2 separate regions of the Homo sapiens genome follow, and region 1 is linked to region 2. The links come from fine-mapping of genetic effects on gene expression. Tissue or cell type: whole blood. Region 2 holds a variant in brackets; the other region holds the start of a gene. All regions are shown on one strand. Distances are from middle to middle. Region 1 holds the start of MYO7B (myosin VIIB). Region 2 overlaps MYO7B (myosin VIIB).

The links. PIP is the estimated chance that this variant, and not a neighbour inherited with it, causes the effect.
Region 1: it holds the start of MYO7B, and the variant in region 2 is fine-mapped to the expression of MYO7B in whole blood (INTERVAL, PIP above 0.99). The same link has a PIP of 0.9 or more in neutrophils, prefrontal cortex and subcutaneous fat.

The regions. Positions count from the first base shown.
Region 1 is chr2:127,534,146-127,537,045 of GRCh38, forward strand. MYO7B (myosin VIIB) reads left to right here and starts at 1,538. Exons shown (of 48, transcript NM_001393586.1): 1 at 1,538-1,686. RefSeq lists an enhancer at 1,570-2,420.
Region 2 is chr2:127,637,159-127,640,058 of GRCh38, forward strand. MYO7B (myosin VIIB) reads left to right here. Exons shown (of 48, transcript NM_001393586.1): 48 at 158-568. The coding sequence ends at 259. It overlaps LIMS2 (LIM zinc finger domain containing 2), which reads right to left. Exons shown (of 10, transcript NM_001161403.3): 10 at 1,268-2,270. The coding sequence ends at 2,123. Among named protein-coding and RNA genes, the nearest start is that of GPR17, 7.5 kb to the right of the region's middle. RefSeq lists enhancers at 1-588, 589-1,535, 1,536-2,481. The variant CAACA/C (reference allele first, on the strand shown) is at 1,304.

The DNA of each region.
Region 1 (2,900 bases), 100 kb before region 2:
CTGACCCCACCCAGGGCCCACTGCGGTTGCACTTCCCTTCTAAACAGTCTGTATTTGCCTTAAGCCCAAATCCCCCTTGATCAAGTGCCAGCCCAAGCCTGCCCAATTTGTTGCCAGGTACCCTCCTGGGAACCTTGTTGTCTGATGGCCTTTGTCTCTAAGGCTTCCTGATGGCCCCAGACATGTCCCAGGTGTATGCTCCTTTCACACTCAACACAGAACACTCTCTTGACCAGGTGTCCAAGCAGTTCTCCAGCAGACTCCGTCTGGATGTCCTATAATTCAATTCAATCAGACACTGTCAACCTGGAGTCATAGATCCCACAGGTTAAGGGCTCAGTCCCACAAAACTGCCCCACTTCAAATGCAGTCTCAAGTCCTAGGTTGCCACCTATACTTCTGACCAATTGGCTATAAATCGGGGTTCCCATGCCCCACACCTGAGGTTGGATTTGCTAGCATAGCTCATGGAACTCAGGACGGCACTCATATTGACCAGTTCGTGGGAAAAGATTTTACAAAGGATTACAGATGAGCAGCCGAATAAACACGCACAGGTGAGTTGTGTGGGAAGGTCATGGAGCTTCCATGCCCTCTCCCGCATGCCACCCCCCAGGGACCTCAGATGTGTGGAAGCTTGTCAAATCTTGTTCAAGAGTTTTACCTTCCCAGAGGTCAGTAGGCGGGGCTGAAAGTTCCAACCCTCTATTCACTAGGTCTTTCTGGTGACTGACCCCATGCTGAGGCTAGGTAGGGCCCCCACATGGTCACCTCCTCAGCATAACTTCAGGTGTTATCAAACGGACTCATTATGAGATGATCACTTGGGAAATTTTTTGTTTGTTTGTTTGTTTGAGACGGAGTCTCGCTCTGTCACCCAGGCTGGAGTGCAGTGGCCCGATCTTGGCTCACTGCAAGCTCCACCTCCCCGGTTCACGCCATTCTCCTTCCTCAACCTCCAGCTGGGACTACAGGCGCCCGCCACCACGCCCAGCTAATTTTTTTGTGTGTGTGTTTTTAGTAGAGATGGGGTTTCACCGTGTTAGCCAGGATGGTCTTGATCTCCTGACCTTGTGATCCGCCTGCCTCGGCCTCCCAAAATGCTGGGATTACAGGCGTGAGCCACCATGCCCGACGATCACTTTGGAAATTCTAAGGGTTTTAGGAGTTCTGTGACACCAACCGGGAACAAGGACCAAATATACTGTATTTTATATTATACTACCACCCTCAATTAGAGCTTGGGGTGCTTGGGGGCAGAGCTCCTGCCATGCAGCACCTGGGAAGATGCTGAGCCCCCGGATGGTCAGCTGACTGTCACCATGGGATCTGGCTGGTGGCCAGAGCAGGTGCACAGACTGCAAACCCTGGTGGCCTCCGGGCAGCATGCATCGCTGCTCTGCAGAAGGGGCCTGGGTTAAAGAGCAGGTATCATGAGGCTCTGCCAGCTGGGGCTGAGGGAGGCGTGTGGGAGTGGAAGTGCCTGGAGCCCAGGGACAAAGTCCTGTAATAAATTACGTGGGCCCAGAGTGCTCCCAGTCATTTCCTCTTGGAGCCCTACCTCTTCTTCCTCTGTCCCTTACTCCCTGACACACCCGGAGTCCCAACATTGCCTCCTTTCCTGGCTCTTTCAGGGTGCCCAGGGTGGAGGGGAAGGGGAGTCAGCCAGACCCCCATCCTGACAAGGTAAGGGCGTGCCGGGGGCGTGTCTGCCAGCGGGGAGTAGGGGGTCACCTCTCTGAAGAGGGTCGCTGGGCAGGAGGCAGGTCCCCTGGAAATAAGATGGAACAGGTCTGAGGGATAGAGAGTGGAGAAGCCCTTCAGGAGCCTGGAAACCAGAAACCGCAGCAGGGGACTCAGTCCATCGGGCTGAAGGGCAGCACCTGGGGGGCTGAGGAGGAGGAGGAGGGGGAGAAGCTGTCTAGCCCTCTGCTGTAGAAGGGCAAACTCCCTGCAGGAGGGGAACGGCAGGTGCCAAGGCTGCTCCCACCCTGAAGCCTCCTCACAGCTAGAGGGCCTCACTGTGGAATCATGGGACATCATGGATAGCCTGGGTCCCATGATGAGCCCCTGCCAGATGTCAGCTGTGCCGTGTGTGACATCCCACTGCGTCCTCGCAACACAGTGGTGGAATTGCCTCCATTTTATGGACACAGAGACTGAGGACCATGGAAGCGAAGGTGCCCACGGGAAGAAGCAGAGCCGGATTCGACTCCAAAGCCCAGGCTTATCCGCCTTACCCATGTACCTTGGGCAATTGGCTTTAGTCACCTCTGGAAGGCTGGGACCCTAGGGAGAGGCAGGACAGGTCTGGGGTGTGGTGGGGGGGGGGGTGGGGGAAGAGGTGGCTGAGGAGAGGGACCGCACCGGGGCTCACATGGGCTGTCCCCCTTGAGCTGTCCAGGTGGTGTGTGTCCCATCCCCATTTCACAGAGGACGAAACTTGAGACACAGAGATTGTGAGAGCTGGCCCAGGTCAGACAGCTGGTGGGTGTGGGGCCCCCAACCCAGATCCCCCAAATTCTCCATGACGAGGCCTCCCCTTCAGGCTCCACTTTGTAACCCTGGACTTGAATTTTGCTCTAATTTATCAGAACCCTGCACTTTGTTTAGGATTTTAGTTCAGAGATTCACACACACCCTCAGTGAATCATTGTTAGGAACCACTCAGCTCATCAGCCCACCCCATCTCCCTGGACCTGCTGGGGGCCCTACGTCTGTCCTCAGATGCCACCTCTAAGAGAATCCTCCCCAGGCGGCTGTCTTGGGGCCTGCTGCATCCACAGCTCTAGCACGGGGCTCTGTGGAGAGGCGGCACCACAGGGATGACCTATATGTGTTGATATTGCTTCCTGTTTTACATATGTCAAAAGACAAAATTATAAAAAATTTATCTTAAA
Region 2 (2,900 bases):
GGCAAGCAGAAATGACGGCCCCAATGGCAGGAGCCCGCCTTCCCTTTCTCCATGCCCTGCACTGCTGGTTGCTGAGGAAGAGAAGGTGGTCCCTGAGTCCAGGACCCCCACCTGCCCTCTGCACCCACAGCCTCTGACCCCCCCGTCCCCTGTCCAGGGCTATAAGATGGATGACCTGCTGACCTCATATGTGCAGCAGCTCCTGAGTGCCATGAACAAGCAGCGGGGCTCCAAGGCCCCAGCCCTGGCCAGCACCTAGCAGCGGATGCTGGCGTGTCTGCTCAGGCGCCCTTCCCGACCTCTAGCCTGGCGGCACCTTCCCAGGCCCTCTCAACCCAGGGCCTGTCCTTGGCGGGCAGCCTTCCATGCTGCCCCCCATACAAAGCCCACTCAGCCCCGCAGGCGGCCCCCTCTGTCCTGGGCGCTGCCCAGGGAGGCCAAAAGACGGGCCCAGAATGGGGTCGGGAGTCTCGGACCCCCAGGCTATTGGTGGATGACTGACTGACAGGACACCTCCCAACCCCACCCCACCCCACCAGAATGTTCAATAAAAACTCCTGGAGCAGGAGAAGTGTGTCTGTCTGAGGGAGCAGGGTGTGGCACAAGGTGGACAGGGGGCCTGGGAGGCTCTGGCCCGCAGAGAGCTGCAGAAAAACCAAAATGCCGTGTGACTGACTCCCCCAGGGAACCCGGAGGGCAGCTGCATTCTCCAGAAATGACTTCATCCCTCCCTTTCTGCTTCCTTCCTCCCCCTCCCTTCCTTCCTTCCTGTTTCTCAGACTGGGGAGGGGCACTCATGGGAGAGTTCTCCTCCCAGGCCCCTCCTCACACCTTCTGTCCTTCTCCCCACCCGGGGCATTGATACGCCTGCGCTACCCCCAGGAGGCCAGGGTGGAGGTGCGGCTCTCTGGCTGCTGGCTTCATGCTATGGCCAGCTTATGCCCAGACAGACAGTGGGCAGAGCTGGACATAGCACCTTGGAGGCCTGGATTCCCCCACCTCGCTGGCATGCCCTGTCCCTGCCCACCTCCTCCTCTGCCCACTGGGCCAGCTTATGTGGACCTGGCCACCCAGGCTTGTGAGGACCTGGCAGGGCTAGTCTTCAACTGCTTATGGCAGCCTGGCCTGGGATAGAGGCTAGGGCCCCCTGAACTCGTGCCTGTCTATGTCTGTCCCTCTGTTCAACTGCCCCAGCAGCAGCGTGTCCAGAGCTGCTGCCATCCCCTCCACCCCCGACCCCCGCCACAAACCACGCAGGCTGCTGTGGTTGTGTGAACAAGCCTTCATTGTGCAAGCGTGAGCC[CAACA/C]AACAAACACCAGGTCTGCGCTGGCCGAAGACGAAGCGTCCTCCCTGGAGGTGGGAACAAGTCACCTCTGACCACACCTCCTCTGACGCCATCACCTCCTCCTGGCCCCACCCAAGGGCTCGACACAAGCCCCAAGGTCGGGGGGAGAGGGGCGGGGCGGAACCGAGGGCGGAGGCCAAGGTGGGATTCCAGGAAGGCCTTCCGAAGGATGGAGGTGGGTCCTGTCCCTCCAGGTAGCTTGTGGGTGTGGACAGCAGGACTTGCTGGCTCAGTGTGGGCACAAGGACACTGTGCCACTGGTTGAGTGAGTGGTGAGGGATTGGAGGTGGCTCCCAGAGGCCTCCATCTGCATGGCCCTGGCCCTGTGGCTCCAGCAGGCTGCCCTGGCTGTGGGTAGCCCAGGAGCCACATGCGCTTAGTGGGGCCGCTCTGGGGCAGGGGCTCTCACAGGACAGCATGAGCCACTGAGCCGCCTGGGGAGGGCCAGGCCAGGCGGGGAGCTGTGGTGCAATTTGCTCCTGTCCCTGGAGGTCTGTGGGCGGAAGCTGTGGGCACAGGTGGACATGGCTGTCAGACGTGGGGTCATAGGCTCCCACTCCCCAGCTCCTGCCTCCTCACAGACAGAAGCCACGGCCAAGGAGAGGAGAGACATGGGGAAGGCAGAGATGAGGGAACAGGAAGGGAGAAGGCAATGAGGAAAGAGAAAGGGAGGGTAAGATGCGGAGGGCACAGGTGGATGGGGACGAGGGGGCCAAGCATGGACAGCAGGAGGGGAGAAGGCGGAGGGGCCGAGAGGCAGCTGCGCAAGAGGGCCTTCAGGCAGAGTTGAGGTCTGTGGCCTTGGGCTGGGCCTTGCGGGAGGTCAGCTCCGACAGCTTCTTCAGCCGCTTCTTCAGCTCCAGCGGGAACTTCTCGTAGCACCTCTTACACACGGGCTTCATGTCGAACTCCACAAACTTGTTCCTGAGGAGGAAGCTGAGCTGTCAGCAGAGCCCCACGCCCACCCCTTTAACCCCAGACAGGTGACTGTGGAGTGGGCTTCCCTCAGCCCCCAGCCTCCCCACACCAGCCTCTCCTAGCCAGCAGGCCAGGCCCTAGGGTGAGATGGCCAGAGAGCATAGGGATGAGAAGGGCCTTGAGGCTTCCCTTGCCTCCCAGAGGCTTCTCTCAGGTTCTGAAACCCCAGAACCCTCTATGCCTCCCCACAGCCCTTGGAAACCTGGACGCCATCTCTCCTCTCCCAGCTCCAGCCATCCCACACCCCTCGAGGCTTCCTGGATGAGCAGCTGACACTGCTGCTTTTGCATATGCTGTTCCCTGAGCTGGAATGCCCTTCCCTCCCCAGAGCCCAGGGTTCTGGCAGGTGTGTTGGAGGCATGAGTGTTCCTCCTCCTCTCACTGTGCCTGGGGTCCCTGGGGTCCCTGGATCCCCTAGACCCCCTGAACCTGCCCCCATCTCCCTGGGTGGTATAAGGCCGGGCTGCCCCTTGTCCCCACCATATCCCCAGGCCAGACTCAGCTGGTGTGCAGGAGGGCTGCTGAGAGGAAGGACCTGCAGGAGCCCCCTCCACCCTGAGCCCCATCCCACGATCA